4 linked regions of the Homo sapiens genome follow. The protein of the gene in region 1 interacts with the protein of each later gene in a biochemical or structural test. Each region holds a gene or a part of one and is shown in the gene's direction. Other genes may lie near its edges.

The links.
Region 2: the proteins of FGFR2 (region 1) and FGF3 interact in a test that uses a peptide from one of them, tested with the Homo sapiens proteins (one study listed by BioGRID).
Region 3: the proteins of FGFR2 (region 1) and ANOS1 form a complex in vitro, tested with the Homo sapiens proteins (one study listed by BioGRID and IntAct).
Region 4: the proteins of FGFR2 (region 1) and FGF10 are reported together in a solved structure, tested with the Homo sapiens proteins (3 studies listed by BioGRID and IntAct, with this or other methods).

Annotation. Positions count from the first base shown.
Region 1 is NC_000010.11:121,483,443-121,490,472, reverse strand, and holds part of FGFR2 (fibroblast growth factor receptor 2 isoform 1 precursor), read left to right. Parts: intron 1-2,359; coding exon 2,360-2,482; intron 2,483-3,048; coding exon 3,049-3,119; intron 3,120-4,940; coding exon 4,941-5,078; intron 5,079-6,669; coding exon 6,670-6,775; intron 6,776-7,030. UniProt on the Homo sapiens protein: Tyrosine-protein kinase that acts as a cell-surface receptor for fibroblast growth factors and plays an essential role in the regulation of cell proliferation, differentiation, migration and apoptosis, and in the regulation of embryonic development.
Region 2 is NC_000011.10:69,816,417-69,823,637, reverse strand, and holds the start of FGF3 (fibroblast growth factor 3 precursor), read left to right. Parts: upstream 1-4,221; 5' UTR 4,222-4,704; coding exon 4,705-4,924; exon of another isoform or gene 4,925-4,930; intron 4,931-7,214; coding exon 7,215-7,221. UniProt on the Homo sapiens protein: Plays an important role in the regulation of embryonic development, cell proliferation, and cell differentiation. Required for normal ear development.
Region 3 is NC_000023.11:8,729,133-8,736,996, reverse strand, and holds the start of ANOS1 (anosmin-1 isoform 1 precursor), read left to right. Parts: upstream 1-4,859; 5' UTR 4,860-4,960; coding exon 4,961-5,167; intron 5,168-7,864. UniProt on the Homo sapiens protein: Has a dual branch-promoting and guidance activity, which may play an important role in the patterning of mitral and tufted cell collaterals to the olfactory cortex. Chemoattractant for fetal olfactory epithelial cells.
Region 4 is NC_000005.10:44,309,421-44,316,420, reverse strand, and holds part of FGF10 (fibroblast growth factor 10 precursor), read left to right. Parts: intron 1-5,890; coding exon 5,891-5,994; intron 5,995-7,000. UniProt on the Homo sapiens protein: Plays an important role in the regulation of embryonic development, cell proliferation and cell differentiation. Required for normal branching morphogenesis. May play a role in wound healing.

The DNA of each region.
Region 1 (7,030 bases):
AAAATCATAGGCCGGGCGTGGTGGCTCACGCCTATAATCCCAGTACTTTGGGAGGCCGAGGCGGGTGGATCACTTGAGGTCAGGAGTTTGAGACCAGCCTGACCAACATGGTGAAACCCTATCTCTACCAAAAATACAAAATTAGCCTGATGTGGTGGTGGGCACCTGCAATCCCAGCTACTTGGGAGGCTGAGGGCAGGAGAATCACTTGAACCTGGGAGGCAGAGGTTGCATTGAGCCAAGATCGTGCCACTGCACTCTAGCCTGGGAAACAAGAGTGAAACTCCGTCTCAAAAAAAAAAAAAAAAAAAAAAAAAAGAAGGAAAAGTCGTAATAGCTAGATCTTTCTGAGACCCAAGAGTTAGTGTCAAGACAATAAATTAGCTGTTCTGCAGCAAGTATTTAATATTTCAGTGTTTAGAATCAGTGTATGTGGCACATTCAGGCTGAGGCCAGGTGTTAGGAGAAACTGGACTGAGAACGTGGATAGACGGGCATTGGCCATGGTAGAGACCAAGAAAGGACATGACTAGTCATTTCAGGAACCTTAGTCATGGGACATGGAGGAGGTACAACAGGGCTAAGTTTGGAAGCGTAGAGACCCGCTAGACGGGCAGTGTGGAAGTCTCAGGGGGAGGGGCAGACAGTGAAGATGGCCTGGACTAAGGCATTAGCAGTGGGAAAGGCATGGTGTGGACACATGGGAAGGCATTTTGGAGTTGAAATCAACAGGACTTGGGAGGAATGTGTAAAGAATACCGGTGTATAGCTCTCCGATTAAGAGAGACAAAGCATTGGAGGAGTTGAAACCTTGAATTTGAGACGTCAAGGGAATGTCAGTGGGGAAGTGTCCCATAGACAGTTGAAAATGAGAACATGGGTCTCAGGAGGGAGGTCATGATGGAGATACGAACTTGCGCATATTTTGTATGTGTTTAGAATTAATGCCTTGAGGATATATGGAAATACATAAACTTAATGGAACAATTCCTCTATTTGAAGGGACAGAAAAAGAGAAGAGCCAGCCAGAGATTCTAAGAGGGCAGGGAGAGACAGAGAGGCAGCTGAGGGAAGGGGACGGGATAAAACTAAACAGAGGGGCTGGGTGTGGTGGCTTACACCTGTAATCCTAGCACTTTGGGAGGCCGAGGCGGATGGCTCACCTGAGGTCAGGAGTTCGAGACCAGCCTGACCGACATGGTGAAACCCCGTCTCTACTAAAAATACAAAATATTAGCCGGGTGTGGTGGCAGGCACCTGTAGTCTCAGCTACTCGGGAGGCTGAGGCAGGAGAATCGCTTGAACCCAGGAGGCGGAGGTTGCGGTGAGCCAAGATCGCACCATTGCACTCCAGCCTGGGCGACAAGGACAAGACTCCATGTTAAAACAAAAAAAACAAAAACAAGAAAACCTAAACAGAGGGACCATTTTAAAAAACAAGCAAGAAATCAATAGCATCTGAAGCCACAGAGGAGGAACAACTGAGGAGTTGGAGGACGTCATTTGCGTCTAACAATTCAGAGGTTCTTCATAAGCTTCAGGAGAGGCAAGAGTGGAACACAGATTAGAATGTTTGAGAAGTGACCAGGAATGAAGAAGACACAATGTTGGATTTTAACCAACGCTTCTGAAAATTCAGGTTTAAAGGGCAGGAGAGCAAGTGTTGAGAGAAAAGATTTTAGGATGATCAGATACAGATCTATAAGCAGCTGAAAGAAAGACACTGGTGTGGCTGGACAACTGGAGGTAGAAGAGAATATGGTTATTTAGTCTACCTTCGCTCTTCAAAATGATCATTCTATTTATTTATAATTCCAAAACAAATACATGTCGTGATCCAGGCTCTCCGATGATCCCAGTTGACCTGTCTTCTTAATCTTAGAGCCACACTGCGTTTTCTTTTCTTTTCTTTCTTTTTTTTTTTTTTTTTTTGAGACAGAGTCTCACTCTGTCACCCAGGCTGGAGTGCAATGGCGTGATCTCAGCTCACTGCAACCTCTGTCTCCCAGGTTCAAGTGATTCTTGTGCCTCAGCCTCCTGAGTAGCTGGGACTACAGGTGCACACCACCACGCTCGGCTAATTTTTGTAGTTTTAGCAGAGATGGGATTTTGCCGTGTTGGCCAGGCTGGTCTCGAACTACTGACCTCAAGTGATCCGCCCACCTTGACCTCCCAAAGTGCTGGTATTACAGGCATGAGCCACCGCACCCGGCCACACTGTATTTCTTATAGTATACCGCAACTGGTTTTTAACATCAGCTATATTTTCTATCTGCATTTTAAGAAATGAACATATTTCCTTTTTGTTCTGGCGGTGTTTTGAAATTAGTTATTTCTCTTGCTTCTTTCTTGATTTCAGTGTATTCATCGAGATTTAGCAGCCAGAAATGTTTTGGTAACAGAAAACAATGTGATGAAAATAGCAGACTTTGGACTCGCCAGAGATATCAACAATATAGACTATTACAAAAAGACCACCAATGTAAGTCGATGGCAGTAACACAGTGGGCAGGGGCGGGGGTGAGGCTCAGAATGTTCCAGGAAGAAAGGCCGTCAATGTTGAGAGCTGGGTGGGATGGCTGGGGACCCATTCCCCTGCCCCGATTCCCGTTCTTTTGACTTACTATTCACAAACTCTCAATATGCAAATTTAGCCTCTATTATGTCAATTTTAGTAAATGTGAAACACTTATATACAGAATAATCAGCAACCGCTAGGATTTTCTTATGGTTCTCATCAAGAACTTTCATAGCAAAAACTACAGCTTGGAAGTTACTGGTTTAATTTTTGCCTAATAACTGGTCAAGGAGCATCTGTGTGCTAGGGAGATAAAGGATAGAATCCAAGGAGATGGCATTTTATTAACGGCCCAGACCTGTGCATCTCACACATTGTTCATGGTCCTCATTGGGACTGATTTCTGCTCTATTGACTGACTAGTAAAAACCGAGAATATCAGCTCTTAAACAGGGCATAGCCCTATTGAGCCTGCTAAGATAAATTCTTTTAAATATATTTAGTTTTTGCATTTTCCTCTACATTTGCAGGGGCGGCTTCCAGTCAAGTGGATGGCTCCAGAAGCCCTGTTTGATAGAGTATACACTCATCAGAGTGATGTGTGAGTAACTCTCTTTTCTCTGGCTTTTTCCTGGGCTTGAGCTGCAAAAATACTGTACGTACTTCACCTTTCTTCCTTCTTTAGTGGCTGCTGCATTTCACACATTCGTAGAAGGTGCAGGAGCTGGCCTTAGAAAGGACAGATTTTATGGTAGGCTGATAACCAATGCTCTGTTACTAATCTGCCTGGCTTCAAAGAGCACAGAAGGTGGAACTGCTGACCTCCCCCTGCCAGAGCGGAAGTCCTTCCCTTGAACATATTCATGGATGTGCAACTACAAAGCGGTTATCTAATTCGCCAAGCTCTTGGCATGTTCTTCACTCCATTAAAGGAGTAATCCTGGAGCTTTTCCCACTTACGAGTAGTTTGTCATATTTCCCTCTAACCCAGATTTGTCCTTAAAGAGTGGAGCTGAGTGAGATGTGGTCCAGGCTGGGGACCTCCACAGGGTCTACTCTCTATGTTTATCCCTCAACAAAAAGGTCTGATCTTGCTTTGGCATCCTTGATAGCATTCTAGAAACACAGTAGAATATTTCTATTATGATATACTGACAAAACCAGTGGGGTCAGGCTCCAACTGATATTTTAGATTTGAAAATTCAGTTGAAGGCTGTGTGCAGTGACTCATACCTGTAATCAATCCCAGCACTTTGGGAGGGCAAGGCGGGTGGATCACGAGGTCAGGAGATCAAGGCCATCCTGGCCAACATGGTGAAACCCCGTCTCTACTAAAACTACAAAAATTAGCTGGGCGTAGTTATGCGTGTCTGTAATCTCCACTACTTGGGAGGCTGAGGCAGGAGAATCGCTTGAACCTGGGAGTCAGAGGTTGCAGTGAGCTGAGATTGTGCCACTGCACTCCAGCCTGGCAACAGAGCGAGACTCTGTCTGGGGAAAAAAAAATCACTTGAACTATTTTTTATTTGTATGAGCAGGAGGAGTTCTGGGTAGGCATTAATTCTGTGCTACCATAGTTGGTCCTCTCAACAATCCTAAAAAAAAGACATGACTATCCCATTTTTGCTGTGAGCAACTGAGGCACAGAGGCTGTTCTGCCTGTCCTGTGCTGCTGCTTTTGCTCTGTAGAAAACTGCGGAGTGAAACACCACCATCGAGTACAGAAGGTTGAGTTTCCAGAACGACCATGATGTAGCTAAACCTGGCTCTCTCAGCTTGCTCCTCCCAGAGATTGAGCCTCCTGAACTTGGCACAGGAAGTCCAAATCTCTGAAGAGTCAAGTGTAAATAAATTATGGCCTGTGAGATGTGTTCAGTTTTGTTGTGTGCAACTCATCTGGGGCATGTGATTCCTCATCCTAACCCCAGCCCAGTGCTGATTGCCTTTGCGATCTTAGTAAGTTCCAGAGCCTCTGTGCAGCAGATGTTCCGCCAGCCACACAGGGCAGCTGTGATCCTGCGGAGTTGGCTTGCTGGCCTTATTCTGTCAACTGCCCATCCTGGTAGATCACAACCCTTGGGTCAGGCACATAAGGAGTTGGAAAGGAGCGTAAAGGCTTTGAAACTGAGAAACTGAGATCCTTGCATTGCTAACACCACATTTAAGACAAGCAGCTCTATTCCAGAGTGATGGCAGTTTGCCTTTTTGTCTATTGATGGAAAATTCCATCAGCACATCCCCGTGTCATCATCATTCGGGGATGCTCTTGCAGGGCAGGAAAGAGCACATAGGAGGAACTGCAGGAGGGCCCATTTGTCTTTGAACTTCAGAAGTGAGGAGGTGTTTATGTCTCAGCTGGGCGTGTTTAGGTTTTGGCAACGTGGATGGGTTAGTAATGCCGTGCTTTCTCCTTTTGTTGCAGCTGGTCCTTCGGGGTGTTAATGTGGGAGATCTTCACTTTAGGGGGCTCGCCCTACCCAGGGATTCCCGTGGAGGAACTTTTTAAGCTGCTGAAGGAAGGACACAGAATGGATAAGCCAGCCAACTGCACCAACGAACTGTAAGGGCTGTTGTCTTTCCTGCCGGTGCCCCAGTGGACTTGCCACACCAGTAATACCTCTCCTGATGTATCTCGTTTTTGAAGGCCCCTGGTTTCCTAAACATGCTCTAAGAAGAATGGCTGAAGCTCTCTGGGCTCAATCCAGAGCTGGGATACATAGCGACACCGACAACCATTACTTGTCTGAGAGAAAGAACATTATTCTGAGTATGGAGAGGGCTTTGGATCAGAGGGTGTCTGGCTGCCTGGCTGAGGGCTCCTGACTTTGCAGAGCCAGCAGGAGTGGTCTTCCTGGGCCACTGTGCTGCACCTTCTGCGGTCTCCCGTGGAGTGACAGGAAGACCCACGGGTCAGGAAACAAGCTAGAAAGCCGCGGGGCCGCCCTGCAGGGTGTAGGATTAAGGAACCAACACAGCCTTTCCCTGGTGGTTGTGCCTGGCCCCCGCCTGGCCCCATCGTGGCCAGTAGAGAATCGGTGTTTCCAGAACTTCTCGAACCATTGAAAATTGCCATTACAGATTGACGCCAACCACATTTCCTCAGAGCGAAGGAACTCGTGTTTGGTTACCTAGGTCTCACTTGTGTTTTAGTGCAGAGAATTAAACATGTGTCCAGGCGCCCTCCTTACTGTACCAGATCTGCCTGTAAAACCATGAACTGGTTTGTAGCAAAACCTGCCTCACACTTTAAGTGGAGTTATGTTGTGTTTGTGACGTGTGCCTGGTGCAATAGAATCAGTGCTTTGAAAGGAGTCTCTCTGCCTCCTGCCTCAACCCCTCCAGGATTAACTAAGAAGAGTGATTGTCCCAGAAACTGCGGTCTATTGTGTATCATTTCATGGGGATTTTATATCAGTAATCCCGTGAGTGCTTTTCGGTGTACCGTGGATGTCTGATGAATGGCCACATTTTATAGCATATTATATAAAGGCATTTATTGTGCTCTTTGTCATTCCTATTGTTTTTTTTCTTTTGTAACGTAGAGGATCTGTCGAAACCCAAAATCAAGATAAGACCTGGGAAGCTAAGCCTATCTAAGAGTTAATCAGGAAGTTAGTGTGCAGCCCAGTGGTGGCAGATTAATTCATCAAAAACTTGAAGTTGTAGTTTTCAAATTTTATTTAATTTTTTTTTAACTCAGGAAGCTGTGTCAACTAGAATCATTAAGACCCAAAGCACCGGGCAGATAAATAGTGGAGCTGCTTTGGTGCTGGGCAGGGTGTCAGGGGAGGGAAGACTGGAGACCAGCCCATGGAAATACGCATTTTCCTTCAGCCTCCAAAGCATCTTTAGGGTGTGACGCCATTGTGAGATGTCACTGTGGCCCAGGGTTACCAGGGAAAACACATAGCTGTGTCTTTCTTGATGGCTTCGATGCCTTTCTAACATGTTTTTGTAAGTCAAAGTGCCTTTCGGAGGAACTGGCAGGGAAGCTTTTGGGAAAGTGATTCATGACCCCCTAATCTAGTTGCTTGGAAGGTTCTGATGCATTTTCCTAATTTACACCACGTCCCCATATTGCCTATTAAAACTGACTATAACCACGTACCCAGTGCATATGAAATTAATTCAAGGAAATCCATTTTTCCCAGGTACATGATGATGAGGGACTGTTGGCATGCAGTGCCCTCCCAGAGACCAACGTTCAAGCAGTTGGTAGAAGACTTGGATCGAATTCTCACTCTCACAACCAATGAGGTAAGAACTTCCTTCTAGAAGCCCCTTGTCCTTGGTTGTCTTGTGAGACATGCGTAGTGTTTTACACACACACTCCCCTGTTGGCTGTTGGTTGGAGTCTGTGGTCTTGTTTATTCTTTTTCCATAGGGTCAGATAGTTCAACTATGGGTTCCTCTCAAATCATGATTTTTCTCAGAACTTCATTTTGTGAGTTCTGACTCATGAAACCAAAGACAGAGGGACATCCCCGAGGCTGCCTTCAGTGTAGCTGCTGG
Region 2 (7,221 bases), on another chromosome or scaffold:
GGCGGAACTGTGTCCCCCAAGATTTGTATGTTGGAACCCTACTCACTAGGACCTCAGAATGTGGCTGCAATTGGAGCTAGGGTCTTTCAAAGGCGATTAAAGTAAAGCGAGGTCTGTGGAATGGCCCCAGTCCAATCTGACTGGGGTCCTTATAAGAAGAGGTAATGAGGACACAGGCACACACAGAGGGACGAACCTGTGAGGACACAGGGAGAAGATGGCATCTACAAGCCCTGTTGGCTGCTCTGCCTGGAGCCCGATGCCAGGCACTGACAGGCACAGGCTGCCCTCGGTGTTGTGGGGAAGAAAAAGAGCAGCTGGAGGTGTCTGTCCCTGGGCCAGGGGGCCCTCTGCTCCCTCCTCTCCTCTACCCAGAGAGAATCCTCCTTTATGTCTCAGCTTGGGGCTCCAAAATAGCCAAGTAGCCAGGAAATAAGGCGAACATCCATCCATGGATGAAAAATAAACAGCATGTGGTCTGTGCACACGACGGAATGCCACTAGGGCAGAAAAGGGGAGGACACACTGGCACACGCCACACCGTGGATGAGCCTCAAAGTGCTGCGCAGGCCCCACTGCGGGGAGATGTGCCTTCCATCCCACCCCTGCCTGCGGGGGCTCCTAACTTTGCCAGAAGCAAAGTGCCAGCTTTGCCCCAGAGGGACTTAGAGGGGCAATGGTTTCCCTCTCCCCACTGCTCGGGTCCTGGGTCCCGTAGCCAGAAGGGGCATTCCAGTCTTCTCGCCTCATCTCCTGGCTGTGTGACCCCGGGCAAGTCACTTCACCTCTCTGAGCCTCCCTTTCTCATCTGTAATGTGGGGCTGATCAGGGCTGCTCCCAGAATTTCAGGGACCCATGGTCTCCCAGTGACACAGGCAGGCTGGGTCTCTCTCCCACTGCTCTTGGGGACAAGGATGGGGTAAGAGGATGGGGGGGCAGGCAACATAATTAGAGTGAGTTTGGGGCTGGGAGTCAGCATCACATCTGACAGTCCCTGGCCAGCCACCTGCGGCCACACCATAGGACCCTGTTCTCTGCCCTCTCTCCACCCCAGCTCTCTCTCCAGGGGAAGAGGCTAGGGGCAGACTCAGGTACCAGATAGGGCTGGGGGTGCTCTGGGGGACAGGGTCCCAGTGCAGAGGTTCGGGGGATGCTGGTAGGAGCACTTCTGCTGGGCCTGGGGTGTCCAGCCTGGGCTCTGGAAGAGACCAATTAGTCAAATGACTACAGTTGACCATTTGGAAGCAATTAACAGGGTCGCTATTAGCGCATGGTGCACCCCCCGCCTGGCTCCGAATGGGAGGGAGAGGGGCGAGGTTGCCATTATGTGGGTGCCTCTGCCCCACCCCACACACAAGACTTTGTGGCCCAGCCCCCTGCCCCTGCCGGGCAGATGTGGAGGAATCAGGTTCCCCTCCCTTGGCTGGGCCTGAGGGTCCCAGAGTCCCAGGGTGGGGGTCTGGGGGGCTTCCTGGGCTGGAAAGATCAACAGGTTTAGATGAGGAGGAAGAACTCAATAGGTGGGTGAGCAAGGGCCTGGAGGCGCAGCCCAGAAGATGTGGGAAGTGAACTAGAGGTCCACGCGGGTGGGTGAGCATCCCCAGGGTTCCCCCAACACTACGGCATTTGTCAGAGGGGCTGGGGCAGCTGGAGAAGGCAGCTTTGGGCTCCAGACCACTTCCCGTGACTGCAGGGTGGACCGCAGATGGAAGGACCGGGCTGAAGGCTGTCGCCAGCGACCGGAGGAGAGAGGAAAACTTGGCCCAGAGAGCTTGGCTGCCTCGGAAAAGTCATGCTTACCAGAACAGCAGACAGTGAGCCAGGGCCACCAGGAGGGACCTCAGGCAGGGCACCGGCTGTCCTGGTATAACTGCAAATTGCGCCCTCTTTCACTCTCAAAGGCAGCAGGGTTTGCGTCATAAACTGTGGTCCCCTGCGGCTGGAGCATGCCCTGCGCTGATGGGAGGCCAGAGGCTTTGCAGAGGTAATGCCACTCAGTTTCCGGCCCTACCTTTGGGGCATCACACACATGAGAAACCAGTATCTCAGGAGCGACACTACACAGCCAAGGCCTCGTGGCAGGAAGTGGCCGAACCATTCATTCATTTTAGGAGTATGCACTGAGTGGCTGGTGTGTCAGGTTCTCCCTAGGAGCTGGAAACCTCTTGCCCATCCCCTGAGCTTCCCTCCTATAGAGGGGTCACCTTTGGACTCCTGCTTCAGGGCAGCAGCCCCTGCCCTCATCTTGGGTTCTCGGGCACACGGCAACCTGGCAGTGGGCAGGGCTGGAGACCAGAGCCCGGGAGTTTCCCTGGGAACTGCTGGGGGCCCCAGGTGTAGAGCAGGAGGGGCATGGACACCCAGATTGCCTTGGTCAGATTTTTCTGGCTCCTCCCAGTCCTCCAGAGGGGGTCCTGCCAAGGAGGCAGCCGGAGCCTTGACAGGAAAGGGCATCGGAAGTCCCCTGGCCCCAGCAGGCTGCTCTTGCTCTCTCTCTCTTAAAACATTATTGTGTCCTCTCTCCTCTCTCTGTCAGACTGTGCCCCCTGACTGCACCCCTCTCTGAATTTCTTGTGCACCCCCCACCCCCGCCACTACATCTCCTCTCTTCTTGGCCAGGTGTCAGGAGGTAGCAGAGCTAAGGCATTTAGAGCAGCGACCTCCTTCCTGTGCCTCTTCCATGCCTCTTAGGGAGCCCAGGTGACCACACATCCCAGCCCAGGCCTGCACAGGGCTGCACTGGACAAGCTCTCCTCTTGCTGCTGTCCTTTGGGGCTTTCCTGTCACCAGCCTCTGACCCCTGTAACACAGTCTCCATCAAGAGTCTGAGGCTCCAGTAGTTCAGTGGCTGGCCTCTGGCCTGTTCAAGGACTCTCACAAGCTGGCCCTGGGGCAGCGGCTAGGAGACCCTGACTAAGACTGAGGTGCTCGGGGATGGCTTGGGGGCGCCCTCCTTCAGGATGGCCACCTGGACCCTGTGCACGCTGGAGTGGGCTCACAGAGGACACACTGCCCTGTGTGTATTGGGCCATGGGAGCTGGACACGTCCCAGGGGTGTGTGCTCACTGCCACAGCTCATGGTGCCCTGCACACTTGCCTGACCCCAAACCCTGATGCAGATGGCAGGCTGGGGAATGTCAGCCCACCCAACTCACCCCAGAGCCCCTGGTCAACTTGGAGCCAAAGCTGTGGCCTAGACCCCTGGACTCCACAGCGTGCCCTCCTCTGGGGCAGGGTTGAGAGAAGCAAATCCCCTGTGCTGGCCCCTGCTTCCTGCTGGCCCCAGGACCCTGGGGGACAGAGGACCAGGAAGCAAGAGAAATGGGTGGGGACATGGCTTTTCCCGATACTTTTTGAAGCCCCTCTTCACTGGGCCCCCTGAGATACACCTTGACCCCCACACAGTCCAGGGGACCACCTGGGCATCTGCACTGATTCAGATCCTCCAGGCCAGGACTCCCCCACACCCATTCCCAGCTTCTACCGGGTTCCTCTTGTCATCACCCACCCGCTGTGGCTACCAGACTCCCTGTGCTTTTCTCTGGGTGTTCTCCGCGGCTCTGTCTTCTTTCCATCTCCCCTGCCTCCTCTTTTTGGCGATCTCTGTCATTCACATTTTCCATGTCTTTCCCGTCCTTTCCTCCTCCGTTTCTGTCTGTCTCTATCTGCATCTCTTTCTCTCTAGGGCTCTCTGTCGGCGCCCACTTCTCTGGCTCTCGCGTCCCTCCTCCCGCCTCCCCAGGCCCCTCTCTGGACCGTCACTGGGACGGGATCCTCCGAGGCCTGCCAGACGAGAGCTAACCCCACCACTCCGGGTGCCCAGTTGGTGTGCGCAAAAGGAGATAGCATCTCCAGACCCGGCCTGCCCCGCGCCTTGCAAGGCTGAGGACAGCGCCACTGCTCCTGCAGGAAGCGCCGGGCGCAGACACAAACCCGGAGCTCCCCACGCGTGCCCGCGCCCCGGAGCCTCCCTGCCGCCGCCCTCCGCGGTCCCCTTCATTATGCGCCGCCTTTAATGGGCGTTTGTCAGCTCGACTTCCCCGCAAGTTGTTTTCACGGACATCAGTCATCGGCGGCGGCCCCATTGTGCAGGGGGATTGATGGGGAGCGGGAGGGGGTGACAGGGCCTGGGGCGGCCTCCTCAAGGCCTCGGTCTATAATTTTCGGAGGCATAATTGGTCTGGGGGAGGGGGCGGGGGAGGGGCGGGTAGGGGACCTTTCAGAGCCAGGAGGGCTTTCGGGGGCGTGGGGCGCGCTGCGGAGCGGAGCCGCGGCTCGACGGCGGTGCGCTGGCGGCGAGTGTATGCAGACGGCGCCCGGCCCGAACCCCGAGCCCCGCGGGGCTCCCCACCCGCCGGCCTCCCGCCCCTCCCGCGCCTCCGCCTGGGGACCACGTCGGCCTTTTGTTGGCGAACCGTCCTTTCTTTCAGCGCTTTGCGCAGCAACGGAAATTTCATTGCTCCTGGGTGGAAATTAAAGGGACTCGCGTTCCCTCTCTCCCTCTCCCTCTCCCACTCTCCCTCTCTTTCTCTCTCTCGCCCACCCTTCCCCCTTCTTCCCCCACCTTTCCCGCGAAGCCGGAGTCAGCATCTCCAGGCGCGGGATCCCGCTCCGAGCACCTCGCAGCTGTCCGGCTGCCGCCCCTTCCATGGGCGCCGCGCTCGCCTGCAGCCGCCGCCGCCGCGGGGCGGGCGCGATGCCACGATGGGCCTAATCTGGCTGCTACTGCTCAGCCTGCTGGAGCCCGGCTGGCCCGCAGCGGGCCCTGGGGCGCGGTTGCGGCGCGATGCGGGCGGCCGTGGCGGCGTCTACGAGCACCTTGGCGGGGCGCCCCGGCGCCGCAAGCTCTACTGCGCCACGAAGTACCACCTCCAGCTGCACCCGAGCGGCCGCGTCAACGGCAGCCTGGAGAACAGCGCCTACAGTGAGTGCCGGACGCTGCGGGGCCCCGGGGGAAGCGGCGCCGGGAGGGGTCGGGCCCGGGAGAAGGCGCGCTGCGGGGCCCCGCGGGGGAGGCGGCGCCGGGGAGGGGTCTGGCCCGGGAGAAGGCATGGTGCGCCCGGGGTGTCCGGGAAAAGACCGTCTGCCTCCCGCTGCCAGAAGGGGAATGCCAGGGTGCCCTCCTCAACCTACACGTCCGGGAGAAGAGCGCGCGCTGGGGTTCGAGCAGAACTCGGGGGCATGGGCGTTCACGTCCGAAGAGGGCGCCGGCGGCTGTCAGAGTCCGTCCCCGGTCCGGCCCGCTGGTCTGAGGGGACGCGAGCTAGGCGACCCCGGGGCTCCAGGCTCTGCTGCTTTGGGCAGCTCTGACAAGTTTAAGCCCTTTGAATGTGTCGGAGAAAAGGAGCCGGACAAGGCATTTATCATCCTCTTTATTATTTTGACGACTTCTCCTCCTCCTGCCGACCCCTGGACGCCCCGCCGTCCCCTCCGCCCTCCCCGCTCGCGGCTGCCCAGGTGGCCGCCCCCGCTGCTGCCTCTGCGCGGAGGACTCTTGCCCTGCGGAGCTCGGTTCCCTGGCCGCGGCCGCCACCGACAGTTATTCCCCGCGCTGGAATCTGCACCTCCCCCGCCTCCGCCCTGGCCGCACAGCGACAGGAGGGTGGAGGCCCTCGCCGTCGGGACGTGCGGATCACGAGCGCGGAACGGTGTCCGCCCGGGCCTGGGGGTGCAGACACACACACTCCGGCCCCCGCACGCAGGACCCGCGGCCCGGGCTGCGCTCACCGCGGGAGTCTGCCGGACTACACGGTTGGGCTCCTCTGGTCACAGGGACCTGAGGCCCGCGCCGAGCCCTTTGAGGAGCAGGATAGCGGAGCTCAGGGCCCGGGAGGACCGCGTGGGGAGCGTGGGAGGGCAGTCAAGACCACAGCTGTCCTCGGGTGCTCCGCGCGGCGCTCGGCTCCGGCCCCGGGCGCAGGAAGCGGTTCCGCCGCTTGAAGGTGGCGGCGGCGGCCTCAGCAAACCGCGGCTTCCTCCAGGAAAGCCGCAGCCCTGAGAGGGCGTCCTGGGGACATGCGCCTCCGGAGCCGCACGGTGGGCACCAGCTGTCACCAGGGGGTCCGAGTGCGCGGAATTCGTCTCACTAAGACACTCCGGTTCTCTCCAAAGCCAGGCTCCCCCTCGGAGTCGCACAGCATCCAAACTTCTTGGTGTAGGCTGCTCACGGGGAGGGGAGGGCGCGCGCCCGCAGCCGCCCCTGTCCTGCGTCGAGACTCGTGCTTCGCTGGTCCCCGGTCAGGCACCGCCGATGCCGCCCAGCCTGCGCACTGGGAAGGCGGGAGGCTCGCAGCCTGCACCACAGCACCCCTGGGCTGGAGCAAAAGCCCGGTGGTGACCGCGTCTGTGCTCGGACCGCGTGCCAGGAGGGCGCTCCTGAGAGGCATGCCTTGGAGAGGGTGCAGGCAGTCGCCCCAATCCCCTCGCAGCCTCTATTGGGAGACAATGACCCCAACCCGTCCTTTGATGTAGTCCCCCGCCCCCAGCCCCCACCACAGCACTCGTGTATCCAGAAGGAAAGGCGGGAGGGGAGATTTAAACTTTCTTATCCCTGGGGAGTGGGTGAGACCCGTCCAGCTTCCCTCTGCGGGCTCCAGGGTCTAAACTGGCTTCCTGCCCTTCCAGGTCCCCCGGCGAGTACAATGATCTCCCGCCAGGTCTATTGCCAGCATGATCTGGGTGGCAGGCACCCTGGCTGTGTTATTGCCAGTGGTTTATATTATCAGCCTGGCTCATCAGGGCCCAGCTTTCCCGCTGGCAGGCACAGGCATTGGGGACCGTGCAGTCCCAGAGCTCAGACTCCCATGGCTGCCGCCAGGGCTTGATTTCCCGCTCAAGCACATGTGCAGGGGCCTGACAGTCACCCAGCCATAGTGGTCCCCACTTGCTTGTCTGTCGGATGATGATGGCAGCTGGCAAGGTGTTGTGAGGCTCGAATGAAAGCCAGGGTGCAGGCAGCGTCAGCAGGTGGGAATGTTAATTTCATTGTTACCCTCCCAAGTTTGAATGAAGAGAAGCCTTCCCTGATGTTCCCTTCTCTACCTCCTGTCCGGTGACTTCTCCCTTCCTGAACTTCCACTCACTCCCCGACCTGTGGGGTGTGTGCTACCCTCCCCAGCCCTGAGCCCGGGGTGTGGCTTTGGGCAGGGCCAGCTGGGCCTCAGCCGCCCCCTCCGTGGGGGCGGCGGGAGTGAGGCACCTCTCATTTCTTCTAGGTATTTT
Region 3 (7,864 bases), on another chromosome or scaffold:
CAGTACCATAAAGGTACACCTCATTCCTGCCTGAAACCATATTGCGAAAGATGAAAATCTGACATTTATCCATTCAGTTATTAATTGTATCCTGTGCTGTGCAGAAGAGAAATTAAGTCTGGAGGAGAAGGAAAGCGGTTAAAGAAGAGCTTTAGCGGAACTGAGCTAGCAAAGCCTGAGAACATTGCCTGAGAGGGTGGAAGTATGGGTCATGGCCAGTGAGCTTGCAGGGCACACTCCTTCATCTTGCCACTGTTGCTTTTCCTGAAGTGAACTGCAGTTTCTAAGGGAAGATGCACACTCTTGCATCATCAAATGGAGGCAACTAGAAAGGAAACTAGACCTCATCTGTGACTTTCTTCCCCTCACTTTACTTTCCCCTGAGAACCAAAACCAGGGACGATGTCGTTTTGTTCATGACTCCTAAATGCTGTCATATTTAAGTATTTGTTCTCCAAGTTTTGAGTGAGTTCTCATTTTGCTTTTCCAAGAGAGGCATGTCAGATAAAGATTATATTTGCTACCTTCAAACTTTATCCTTATCCAGTGTAGCTGAAAGCCCTTTAAAAAGGCAAGTTGCTTTCTGAAAAAAACAATGAGTCTAAGAGAGTCTTAGCTAAATGTACTGGAAAAATATGTCCATTTGATTGTTAAGAAATAGACTAGTATGTCCAATCCATATAAACACACATCTAAAAAAAGATACTTTAAACAACAGTAAATCATAGATGCTATTTAAATAAAATTTTTTGTACCATTTTTAATGGTTATGTACTTTTTTTTATTTGTTTGTTTTGTTTTTTGTTTTGAGACAGGGTCTGGCCCTGTCACTGAGGCTGGAACTCAACGGCATGATCTGGGTGCACTGCAGCCTCGACCTCCTGGGCTCAAGCAGTCCTCCCACCTAGGTTTCCTGAGTAGCTGGGACCACAGATGTTTACCACCTACCACCATTCCTGGCTAATTTTTGTACTTTTTGTAGAGATGGGGTTTCACCGTGTTGCCCGGGCTGGTCTCAAACTCCTGAGCTCAAGTGATCCTCCTGCCTTGGCCTCCCAAAGTGCTGGGATCATAGGCATGAGCCACCGAGTCGGGCTTCAGATGTACTTTTAAAATCAATTATCCCTCAAAGTGTAGTCCCTGGTTGAATTTGTATAGAATCACTTGGGGTATTATTTAAAAGCTGACATTTCAACCCTCCACCCCGGATATACTGACTCAGAATCTCTCAATTTAGGGCCCTGGAGTCTATGTTTAGTAAAGATTTCAGGTGTTTCTCATTCTCTGCAGAAAAACAGGAAAAAAAAAAAGAAAGAAAAGAAAAACCAATAATTAAAATACAAGGAAAATAATAATTTTTGGAAACTGTGAAAGAGGGCTTTATTTTGTGTGATTTCTCCAGAACCTGACCAAGACAACCACACATTTTGGTCTATCTTTGTTCATGTAGATATAAATAAGAGATAATTAAGGTGCTTTTCTACTCTCTTTGTTAAATGTGTGTTTGTCTATTTAAGTCAAACCAAAGTCAATGTGAAGTTAAATTCTTCTCTAGACAAATTCGGATCATGGGGGTCAAGGAGATTTGGAGAAAGACATACTAAGTACCGTCTTACTAGCTGCACCCGAGGGTCCTACCCCTTTATCCATCATTTCCTCAGCATACTCTTAGGGTTCTCCTCCCCTGTGGTTGGCTTTCATGAACTTAGATTGTGGCTTACCTGGTAATGTCAAAAGTCAGAGAACTTCCATGTTTCAGTTTGCAAGGTGAGCTGCATAATAAGTTGGGCATACATGGGCAGAATGAAAACAAAACAAAACAAAAAAACACCGAAATTTGACTGTTATTCTGACTTTACTAGAATGCTTTCCTTTTAAAAGTTACTTTAAGCTGCAATTAAAGTAAATAATATGAGAAAGGCCTGCGTAATCACAGAGGATGTCTGTGATTATTCTAAAGGAAGAAAGCAATATAACTGCAAATATTATTTTAACATATTTATAATAAGGTGGCTCTATATGTTTAAAACCAAGTTTTCTGTTAAACTGACTGTTCTCCTTTGTGGTTTATTACAAAACGCATTTATTCATAGAAATGAATATGCTATGGAACCCATATAAGTAGCACACACACTGCTTTTTAAAAAAAAAAAAAAACGGCAACCCCTGTGAACATCCAAAGGCTGTTTTTAAAAGCTCAGCATGCTTGTCCTTGTGATTTCACTTTCTGGAATATGCATTTCATGATATGACATGCAAAATTATAAATCAAAGTTACCTAAGAAAATGTCGGTGTACATAATATCTTTGCCTTCACCAAGACCACATATTTGCTTAACTTTAAAATTCCAAACAGGCCAGGCACGGTGGCCCACGCCTGTAATCCCAGCACTTTGGGAGGCTGAGGCAGGCAGATCACGAGGTCAGGAGATCGAGACCATCCTGGCTAACACGGTGAAACCCCGTCTCCACTAAAAATACAAAAAATTAGTTGGGCGTGGTGGCGGGCGCCTGTAGTCCCAGCAACTCGGGAGGCTGAGGCAGGAGAATGGCGTGAACCCGGGAGGCGGAGGTTGCAGTGAGCCGAGATTGCACCACTGCACTCCAGTCTGGGTGACAGTGAGACTCCGTCTCAAAACAAAACAAAACAACTCCAAACAAACACTAGGAAAGGATCCCCTACAGCTTTTGGAAATGTTTTTAGTAATTCACAAATGAAAGTGACAACATTTAGAAGACAATCTCGGTATTCAGACATCATTATTTATTGACACTTGGCTTTATACACATGCCTGCTTGGGGTCATTATAGTTAGCTTCTTTACTCTTCGTTAATATTATGTTTAACATACTTAAAAAATATTTCCATTTGCAATTCTGAGCAATTTTAAAACAAATCATTGAAGTCGTGTAAGCTTATGCCAAAATTACTAGGTTTCCAGCCCAAGTAAAGAGTGGCCCCAACCTTTTTGGCACCAGGGACTGGTTTCATGGAAGACAATTTTTCCATGGACCTGGGGGTAGCAAGTGATGGCTTGGGGATGAAACTGCTCCATCTCAGATCGACATTAGATTCTCATAAGGAGTGCGCTACCTAGACATCTCGCATGCATAGTTCACTATAGGACTGAAGCTCCTATCAGAATCTAATGCTGCCACTGATTTCTCACCTGAGGCACAGCTCAGGCAGTAATGTTCCCTGGCCTGCCGCGGCCCAGTTCCTAACAGGCCACTGTCATTGTGAAGAGTTTCAGGATGGTGATGGCAGAACAGGCCTTCTAAGAGTGCGACTGTACCATTGTACAGCTTGCATGTCCATGAAACTGGCTTTGCCTATAGAACCTTTTGAACAAGATGACCCTGATTTTCTAATTCGCTGAGAAACACACCAAGGCCAATTAATTTGACTGGCCTTTCTGATTTAAGCTATGTGAAGAAATACACATGTAAGATGATGTATTTGAAAAGCACTCATAATAGGATAGCTGCAGATGGCTGTCATTGCAATTTGTTAACAGGCAGATCTCAAAATTGCAGAGTGGAACCTGTGTATAAGAATAGGGAAAAGGGTGGGAAATTGCAAAACAACTATATAGGCTTTGTGCAAAGAGGATTCCAGCCTTCTGATGTAGCTTTGAGTAGAGCGAGTGCATCTAGATACCCTGACTGTGCTTAGCTGGGTGCTTATAGAGATCCCGTTTTCGAAGGTGAAAGTGCAATTGGGTAGGAGAGGGTGGAGATGTCAGAGCAAAGGAACAGCAGTCAGTTGTTGTCCATTCGAATAGGAGTGTGCCTGGGTCTTTTTTCTCTGGGCTCTCCTACCTGCAAGGGGACTGTCACTTCCTGATGGGGCTCAGGGGAGTGTAGAGCTTTGTTACAAGTTGTGTCTTATCAATGCCTCCTGTCTTTCTGTGGCAGGATCCTGGCTGGGGAGGGAGAATTTGTGTGCTGAGAGAACACTAGACAAAAACGACAGGAGAGGACGGAGCAGCCATTCCAAAGCTAAAAAGCCTGAGTCAAGAGGCTCGGGCAAATCGTGGGGAAAGAAAGAGATTAAGACGCAAGTCTATTTAGAATAAATCACTCACTTTGGGGCGTGCAAGGCTTACTAGAAAAACAGACACCTGAGGAAACAAGGCGTGTGGACCTAAAGGTGGTTAGCTATGCACTGAGACTGTCTCCAGGGAAAACAGTGCGGGAGGGAGGGAGGGAGGGATGCGGGAAGGACGGAAGAAATGCAAGAGGGAGAGAAGGAGGAATTTGTCTCCGGGACACTGTAGGGCAAATGTCCACGCTCCCCTCCCCGTCTGTCTTACTGCCATTTGTTTTCTTCACTTCTTTCCACTACCTGGGCAAAGGAAATTCGAATATGTGAAAGCGTGGGAAAAGCCTGGACCCAGGGGAGGTCGGGGAGAAAGCAAGCCACTTAGGGGCGCGGGGTCAATCCCCAGGCAGGTGGGACGCCCCTGGGGGTCCTGAGGCCTCTTCCCTCCTGCTGAAGGGAGCACCCCTCCTGGCAGGCCTGGACCTGCTCACACCGACGTTTACCTGGACGGAGGGGGAAGGTGGGAGGGGCAGGAAGCGGTTGGTGCGAACGGGAGAGGCGCCTGCGTGGGAGCTGGGCCCCTCGAGACCTGCGCGGCGTGGAAAGCCGCTCGGCGTCGCCCTCCCCCGGAGCGCCCGGGCTCGCAGCTGACGAGACCGGCCCATGGGCCCTGCGCCCGGCCCCCCTGTCACTCACACGCCTTCCAGCCAATGGTGCGGCCTCCTGTCCCCCTCACCCCACCCCTCGAGGGCGAGCTGGGAGGGAGGTCGGCGAGGAGGGTCCGGCCGGAGTTGAAGGATTGAACTTTCCGGCTCAGTCGCGGCGTCTGCCTGGTCCTCAGCAGTGCAGCCCCGGCGCGGAGCAGGGAGCCTCGGCCCGCGCCCGGCGCCCTCGCCCTCGCCCTCGACCCGCAGCCATGGTGCCCGGGGTGCCCGGCGCGGTCCTGACCCTCTGCCTCTGGCTGGCGGCCTCCAGCGGCTGCCTGGCGGCCGGCCCCGGCGCGGCTGCTGCGCGGCGGCTGGACGAGTCGCTGTCTGCCGGGAGCGTCCAGCGCGCTCGCTGCGCCTCCAGGTGCCTGAGCCTGCAGATCACTCGCATCTCCGCCTTCTTCCAGCACTTCCAGGTACGGGGAGGCCCCCGCCCGGGTTCTTTCTGGGGCTGCGGCCGCGGCGTGGGCGCACCGGGGCGCGCGCCTCCCAGCCTGGGCTCGCAAAGTTCTCGGCCAGCGCCGCCGGCTGATCCTGGCTTCCCCTGGGCGTGGATCTTACAGTCGGGGTGCTGGAACTCTCCTTTCCAGCCTCTTCCCGGCTCCTGAAAAGAAAAAGAAGCCCGAGACATCTTGCCCCAACTCCCTCCTTCCCAGCAGGAAACCAAAGGCGATTTCCCTGGGGAGGGAGAGTCGTGGATGCTGGGAGTGGGTGTGTGGATGTGGCGGTTTCCCGGGAATTGGAGTGCGCGAGACTCCGGGCGGGCGGCGACTCCCGCAAAGTCCCAGGCGCTCCGGGGCACTGGGAGGGAGTCTGGGAGGCGCGTCCGGCTGCGCCTGGGGACCTCACCTCGAGCCCCAGCCCCGCAGGTGCCCGCGGGCCGACACTTTGTCTCTTTTGAAAGATGGTTTTCACTCTCTGAGGGCTCAGAGCTCGCTGCCCACCCTTGGAGCCCCAGCCAGGGTACTTGTGCCAAGTCGTGTTCCAGGGTGCGTGTATGCGCGTGTTGGGGGTGCGAGTGGCTGTGCGCGCCTCAATTCGGAACCCCAAAGATTCAAGGTCTTGCCCTGGACTAGCGTAGAGCGTCAGGGAAGAAGTGCCGGGGACAGGGGATTTGGCGGGGCCGTATTCGGATACTCCTCAACGAGTCCCGGGGGAACCGTCCCCCAAACCCCGAACGTAGGTTCTTTCAGCCTGAGGGTGGGGAGTATGTGTGTGTGCGCGCGCGCTTGTGTGGGAGGCTCCGGGAGCCGCGCGCTTGGCTCCAGCGGGTTGCCGGGACTCTGCCCTGTGGCGCGGACCCCCGCGGGACTTGCGCGAGGCTCCGGGTGCGGGTGGGCGCACGAGAGCAGGTTCCGGACTCAGCGCGAGCGAGTGCAGCTGCTGCCTGTACCAGCCCTGTCGAGCGTGCGAGCTCTGAAATCCTCCGCTTATTTTTCTCTTCTCTCATCCTTCTCTCCTTCTTCTTCTCGCCTCTATCCCTAGGTGCCCACCTGTTCCAAGTTCCCAATTTCTCGCTTCAGGGAAACTCTGGAGGGACCAAAAGGAGAAATGGGGGCTGGGGGGAGGGGTTCCCCTGGCTGGGCGGGAACTGGAAGCCAAACCCTTGGCTCTTAAACTGGGCGCCCCTCCTGCCAGAGCTGGGTCAAGGGGTGGGGGGGGGGGTCCCCCTAGAGGCCCTGGGAATTAAGCTGCCAGAGGAGGCCATATTAATAAGGGTGGAATGTGGAAGTGATTCCCCTTACCCTCGGGGATGATCTTGAACCGGCTGGTGAAGCTGGCGCGTTCGCGAGTGTGCAGTTGAGTTTGTTCTAAGTCGTAGAAGCAGCGTCTCGTGGGTGTCAGAGAAATGGGCACGCTCTGTAGTCCTTCTGCGTCTTCAGGGAATGGAAGACCCAGTGCTCACCTCCTGTGGTGAAATTACCCAGACATCCTGGACAGAGCCAGGAGAGGGCCGATCCCCAGGCACCTGGTTTCCAGCCCTCCGAGTCCTACCCTGAAAGTCACTCTCCTAAGATGCCACACTATTGTTTGAAACAACAGAAAACAAAACAAAACGGAGCAGCCTATTCCCAGGGAGAAAGAGTACCTTTTTTTTTTCTTTTTCTTGAATTGTCAGTGCTGTAATTTATTTGTTTTACAGTTTCAGTGGCTAAAGCACCAGCTTAGATGAAGCCAGTTCCCGTGAAAGGCTTTTCTTGTGGTCTCCTTGGCATGATTTCTCTTTGGAAGAAAAACTGCTGACAGAATGCACATTGCTAGACAATCCTGATTACATTTTAATTAGCTGGGGGTGAAATAAGCTGCAAATTACTCAGTTAAGACTTAATAAGTGCTGTGTTTGTAATCAATTGCAAAGCCATTCTGGGAGCCTTAACCCTAACCTGGTAATGCCTATCTGATTTATCTAAATTGCAGGGATTAAGTGTTTTTAAGATCTGAAAAGCCAGCAACACATTCTCCTTATAAAACCCCAAGCTTCCCTGTTCCCCACCGCTTGCCTTCCTTTTTTTTTTTTTTTTTTTTTTTTTTTAATAATTAGAAGGAAGATGGGCCGGGCGCAGTGGCTCATGCCTCTAATCCCTGCACTTTGGGAGGCCAAGGCGGGCAGATCATTTGAGGTCAGGAGTTTGAGACCAGCCTGGCCAACTTGAAATCCCGTCTCTACAAAAAATACAAAAATTAGCCTGGTGTAGTGGTGCATGCTGTAGTCCCAGCTACTCAGGAGGCTGAGGGAGGAGAATCCTTGAACCCGGGAGGCAGCGGTTGCAGTGAGCCGAGATCACACCACTGCACTCCAGCCTGGGTGACAGAGCAAGACTGTCTCAAAAAAAAAAAAAAAAAAAAAAAAAAAGGAAGGAAGGTGGAGCAATCAGTCTGCAGACAACTCATGACTGGGCTACGGGAAGTCTTAAGAAGATTGCTTTCCTACAGGGTCACCCCCGCCCCCAACTCCTGCAAATGAGCCCACCCATAAAGCTGTCTCTGGAGCAGGTGCCTGTTTCCATCTTCTCTTGCACGGTTTCAGGCCATGTTTAAGGATGGGAGAAGCTTGCCTGGCCTCCAGCCTGGATGCCCGCCAGGTATGTGGACTCTCAATTATGAAAGCTGTC
Region 4 (7,000 bases), on another chromosome or scaffold:
CATATTTGAGAACTATTGGTATAGAAGGTTGGTTAACTTGCCACTATTCTGATTGAGCACACAGTAAATATATATTTAGCACCCACTCTCTGAGATTCTTTGCAACCCTATGAGCTATAGGCCAGCGGTCCCCAACCTTTTTGGCAGCAGAGACTGGTTTCGTGGAAGACAATTTTTTACACGAAAGGGAATGAGGAGATGGTTTGTAGATGAAACTGTTCCACCCCAGATTATCAGGTATTAGTTAGATTCTCATATGGAGTGTGCAACCTAGATCCCTTCCTTGCATTGTTCACAGTAGGGTTCGCACTCCTGTGAGAATCTAATGCTGCCACTGATCTGATAAGAGGCAGTGCTCAGGCAGTAATGCTAGTGATGGAGAGTGGCTAAATACAGTTGAAACCTCGCTCTCGCTTGCCTATGGCTTGCCTCCCGCTGTGTGGCCCAGTTCCAATATTGGTCCATGGGACATTACAGTTCCCATAATGTTTTGAGGCTTCACTTCATTTAACTTTGTTTCATTTTTAAAGAGAGGTAAAACCACATTTAGAGCCATTTAGACTCACACTATGGTATGGCCACATAATCCCAGAGGTATTAGTGAAAATGTGATAACAACCCCAAGGAGCTCCCTAAGTCCTTCTGTGCTAGGATATAATAGATGAACTTAGGACACTGACAACAATTCTTGGGAGAGAGAGGTTTCATTTAGAGAGGTTAGTATTTGTGTCTTACATTGTGCTAACTATGATATGTTTCAGCACCTTGATTAAAACTATAAAACTATATAGCATTATAATCAATTTCAAGTTAAAATGTTTAGAGAAAAATAGATGTGACTGATTCTGAATTAATGAGACTTTCCACGTTTCACAATAATTTTTTTTTGGAAAGTACATTCCTCACCCAGAAAAGCACCACTACCACTCAATGAAGCAGAACCTTTAGTTTTAGCTAGTGGCCACCTCAAAGTGCCATTGGGGGAGGTGGGGAGAAATGTGGCTCAAGCACTTGAGCTCTTTCTCTCTCCAAGCCTGTTTTTATGCATGCACTTTCTCTCCCTGGAATGTTCCTTCTCAACTTCCCAAATCCCCCCTATTAAAACCCTGCTCTTGAAAAGTCACCTCAAACACCAGCTGTCTTCTTCAGGATGGCTTCACTATTTAAAGTAATGTATAACATATTTTATCTCTCATACCACACTTAATATATTTTCTTTCTGGTTTTTTTTTTTTTTTGTATTGTCATTACTTATTTGGGTCTTTATTTTATTGAGCTTTAAAACTCCTTGAGGCAAGGACCACATCTTGTTTGCCTTTGTAACCTTCAGAATGAGAGCTAACACCTACCCTGCACACTGGTGCTTAATACACATTAGCTGAATTAATTTACTCAGTCTATAGAATTCCATTGTATATTTATGTTCTATTTATCTAGGAGTGGATAGAAGGATTTTGCACTTATTTTTCACATCTAGTTTTCCTTGTCTATATCCATTCTATTAAATACAAGTTTTATTTGCCATATACTTTCTCCTTTTGTGTTTATGGAAAAATATTTAGTGAGAAACTTACCCTCCAGACCAATAGCTTTTTCATTCTAATAGCACCAAAACAGAAGAAGCCTTTGTCCAACATGATTGCTAGGGGGACAATAGGTCAGATGCTCCTCTTCTGGAGAAGAATGAGAAGCAGCAGCTGGGAAAGATGCTTGTGAATGGCCACCTTCTCAGATTAACTATTTAGTCACTCATCAAAACATTACCAGCCCAAACAATTATATATATGAGTATTAAAAGAAAAAAATGCATTTACACGAAAATTGTGACTTCTAAGTTATTTCCACTCAGAGATTATCAAGTCACAAAATTTTCTCCATTACTAAGGTGATGATGCATCATGAGGGAACATTCGCAAAGTAATATGAACTGATTTTTGTCATAATCGCTTTTGTAATGTTGACTATCAAACTTTATTTTTTAAGATTTTAAATATAATCTAAAATAAGCTTTATAGATTGCTACTATTTACTGAAGAAATTTGCTAAATATTACTTTATTTCTAATGTATTCTTTAAACAATTTTATATTTGTAGACAAAATCCTTCCTAGTTGCCAAAATTCTTAGAATCTGCACAAGATGTTTACTAAACTGAGTCTCATTATCTCCCAACTTCACTTTTCCCAGCTTCCTGACTTGTTCCTTGTACTCCAGTTGGTAAATCAAACCTCTTATGATATTTGAAAACACCATACTGTTTTACCTTAATAATTTGCTCTTGCCTTCCCACCCTTCCCAGCCTTCCCCTGGACACTTCTTAACCTTCATGACTCAGTTCAGGTCTCATCTCCAACAATAATTTGATCGTGGAACCCCAGCCAGTATGACCTGCCTTTACCTTTGCCCCATAGTCCCCTTGTCATCATCTTAAGTCATCACTTACTGCCATGTAACATGTTTTATTGTAATTATCTGTGTTTGTCTTTTATTCCCAATAGTACATAGACTTATCAATAGAAAAGCCATTACGTATTTGACTTTATATTTTCATTTTCTAAAAGCGTACCCTTCTCCTCCTAGGTCTTCCTAAGTGATTGAACTAAATTGTCCAAAGACCCTTAAATAGATTCACAATACTACCTGGGCTATTCATGTTTTAAGGGACATAAAAACTAATATAGTTACAACTTAATATAAATAATAGAATTTCACTACAAGAATATGCCTATAAATTTACAAAATATCTGTTTTACATGAATGGGAAATATAATTCATGTGTCCTTTCATTAATAATATAATTTTCAGGTGTTTCTTTGAGTTAAAAAAAAAAAAACCTTTTTTTATAGCTTTTAATGTTAAGGTAATTGTAGAGTCATAAACTTGTAAGAAACACGGGGAGATCCAGTATGCCCTTAACTCACTTTCCTCCAGGAGGCTCTTTTAACTGGCATTTAGTTTTGATTCAAAATATACACATATAGAACTATAAGCTACTGATCCAACAATCCTCAAACAAAATTCTGGAGCTCCTTTCCAAAAATAATTTGATAGGCAAACTTGATCATCCTCACCAAAGAACAGAAAAACTGGAGTGATTCCTTACAAAAAGTAAAGAAGTCCTCTAGGCTTCAGTCCTTCAGAACTCCCCTTTCACATTCACAGATGTTTATAATAGGTGCAGTCATTGTCCATTACTCACAAGATGATCAAATTATAACTTACCTGACCATACGCTGCGTCCCAAAATTATTTTCAAAATTCGAAAGGATATTAAATCACCTATGTCTTCCCTCTATTTTGAAACAATAACTAAATAATAATATAAAAATAATAGCTAAACCTTTTTAAGCTTGCCTAAACTAGTTGCAAAGTGGAAAAAAAATGGTTGATTGAGTCTTTGAATATTGTGCTCCCATTTCAGGTAAAGCAGAAAGAAACAAAGGGGTATCTAAGCTAAATATAATCTACAATACCACTTGCAGTTCATCCTCAGAAATAACGGGTCAAAAATTCAGTTGTATCTTATACTATTACTATAGCTCAGTCTGTTAGTATAGTTTAATCCCAGGACGTTGCATGCACCTTCACAAATATTGGTTTATTTTTTGCTTAAAATCATCCTTCATTCCTCTTTGTTCTATTAATTTTCAGTTTCAAAAGTATACATAAGAGAATATCTTGCAGTTTACTGACAGTACTTTCTTGTCTTTTGGCCAGACAATGTAAGCAGCTGCCTAATCTTTTGCCCCTGAATTCTACCTCCTGCTCTGCTCTGTATCTTCTGCTTATGACATAAATAAAGTATGTTAGATTTTGTTCTCTAAGATTCAGACGTTATCCTCTATGGCATGCCATCATCCTTGGGAGGAACAGCACATTAAGTCATTAAAGAAAATTATCTTGATGAGTCATTTTGTCAGATGGTTTGCAACAGGGTTCCCTTGTAGGAATGGGAAAGAGGAGGAAGATGTGATGGAGAGGCAAAGTAGTCAGAGATGGGGAGCAATAGAGTCTAAAAGTCAGAGGCTTAAGTGTTAACATCCATTATTACCGACCTTTATCACCTTACCACCTGTGTGTGTGTGAGTTAAATAACCTAAGTATCTTCCGTTTTTATATTTGTAATCGAGACTAACAACAGTATCCTTAGAGGGCTATTGTGTGAATTAAGAAAATATTTTTCAGAATATGCAAATAAATGTGCGTGTGTGTGTGTGTGTGTGTGTACCTTAGGGAAACTACCAGCATAAGGGAAATGGATGTAAAAAAACACAAATAATGTCTCCTTCATCCTTCACAATCTTTCCTTGGTTTTGGCTTGCAAATAGAGTGAGATATATCTCTTTTGATGAAAAGGAGTGCTGTGTTAGGTCAGAGACTTCCTACAGATACATGGACAGAAGGGTCTCTGACATGTAGTCTTGGCAAAGTCTCTGGTTATGTCAACTTGGCAACAGGGGAAACTCAAGCATTTCTATTGGCCTCCATAAGGCTAACCTGTGAAGGAATAGGAAAGAAGGTATTCATCTCTCGAGAATAAGCTAAGCCACTCTATCTCTATGGGAAGAGTGAAAACATATAATCTGTAGACTGCATTGGGGATGGTGTTTCTCATGATACATGACAAATGATAATATGCTCAACTTTCAGATTTCATGTATTAAGCCAATGGGAATTTGTATGTATTGTTCAGGATTTACATAGCCCATTGAAGAATTTCCAAAATCTAGCACTGTTGGAGAAAAACTACCCTCTGATGATAATTAAGAAGATACTAAGCTCCAGGCAAATTCTAATAATTTTATAGGTACTATCTCATTTAATATTCACAACAAAATTATGAGGGAGGTACTATTATGTTGCCCATTTTGCAAATAAAATTGAGTCATGGGACACTTCAGTGACTTCTCCTATGGTAATTCACTAATAAATGTAGAGCCAGGAGTTGAACCCAGACATTTTGGCTCCAGAGGCCACATGCTAATCACGATGCTACTTCTCTACCCTGAACAAACTGCTGAGAGTTATGAAATAAGTAGTTTTAGTTCCCTAGGTCTTCTTAAACTAAAATGGGTGGGCACTTTTAGTAGACGATAAACTGACTTCCCTATTGTGATCTACAAACTTTTCCGAGAAAATTATCTTTAGATGCAGCAATCGAAACTTGTGTATAAGGGGAAAAGGAGCTCTTGTCTACCTCTTACTACTTCCCTCGATTTTCCATTTTTCCTAGGAAAAAAAAAAACCTTAAAAATCCATGTTTATGGATTTTCCCCCAACACAGAGCAGTAATTCTGCTATTTCAGGGACAGTGCAGATGTTGGGATTAGTCTCCCTGTATCTCAGAATGTCAACACATTTGCCAAAAATGAATCTATCAGTTAAATGTAGCCAAGAGATTTAGATTATCTATATCCTAGCAAGAAGAAATAGTTTATCACTGTTTTTAGAGATTGAGGTAATCTGGCATATTATTGACATGTGCTACAGATTTAATTTAATACCATAGTACAGATATGGGCTCTGATAAGTTATTTTGAAATCTAGGCTAAGATGAGTAGAGTTGTTTCAATATTTATAGGGTTGAAAATGCAGAGTTAGCAAAGGAAGCATTTTAATTAAAACAATATTTTCTATGTATGCTCAGAGTAAAATGAAGGGGAATTCTTTTAAAGCCTTATTACTTTTTTCTATATATTTGCTGGAAATACTTGCCGGGTTTTAAGACACATTGAAAAAGATTTGCTTGTTTGCTTGTTTGTTTACCAATGTTTTGTGCCTTTTGTTTTTAGAACCACACAAAAAACAACTCAATAGTTTCTTTTGATTTTACTTTTCTTCCAAATATATTTAGGATTCTTTATTTAGCCTTTTAAAATTGTATGTTTTAGGCATCCTGGAGATAACATCAGTAGAAATCGGAGTTGTTGCCGTCAAAGCCATTAACAGCAACTATTACTTAGCCATGAACAAGAAGGGGAAACTCTATGGCTCAGTAAGTATTCTGCTTTTGTTTTCAAATCCACTCCAGTAAACCATTACCATAGTTTTGGAAAGTTTCCTCCAGACACCGAATAGCTTTGTTATCCTTCTATTGCTAGTAAATAGAGCCACAGTGGGTTAGTCACCACTGTTTCAAGGGCTGGCAAAGCAGCTCTTCCAATTCTGTAATCTCCTCTGTTGTTCACCCATTAGTCTACCACACAGGCTGCTGCTGGCATTTGTCTGTGAATGTTCTAAACTGCTAACCAAGTCAGGCTCTCACGGAAGCATCCGGTCAGATTGGCATGGAAAATGAAGACAACTTGGAGAAAAAACACTAAAAACAAAGATCTTGAATTGAGTAGAAACCCATGTATTATATATGCGTTACGGCTGAAGATGAAACAAGGGCTCAGATGTTTTGCATTTTGTTAAAATCTGAAATGGGGAAATGTGTCAAGAAACACCATTTTGCTTGTTGTTCAATCAACTCTAGAATTTTATTTACCTAGACAATAACCTTTAATTCAAATTATGCCTCAAAATCATATATATATATGTGGGAAATATTCTTTGCAATAGGGTCCTTGTGGAGCAGGTATCCCTGCAGTGCTTTGGGCACATCCATGCCTATATTCCATACCAGGTGTTAAGTATTTGGAATACCACTTCTGCAATCTTGGATCAAACTCTTTTAAACCAATTTCTTAGAAATTTAAGATCTCACTTAAAATGCCAAATAGTTGTTTTATAATTGCAATTGTAATAATAATTAAATTACAAGCAGTGAGACAATTTATCCTGCTCAAGTCCTTAGAAAAAAATGCATCAATCAATCATATCAACATCTACTATATGCCAGATATTGTTTGACATATCAAAGATGCATAAGAAAGAAGTATAGAAATGGGCCTTGACTTCAAATAATTTATAATATATTTAGGGGAAATGTTAACAAATATGAAATAATTACAGCATGATTGGTTGTTACATGTATGAAAGGATCAGCTATAGCAAAG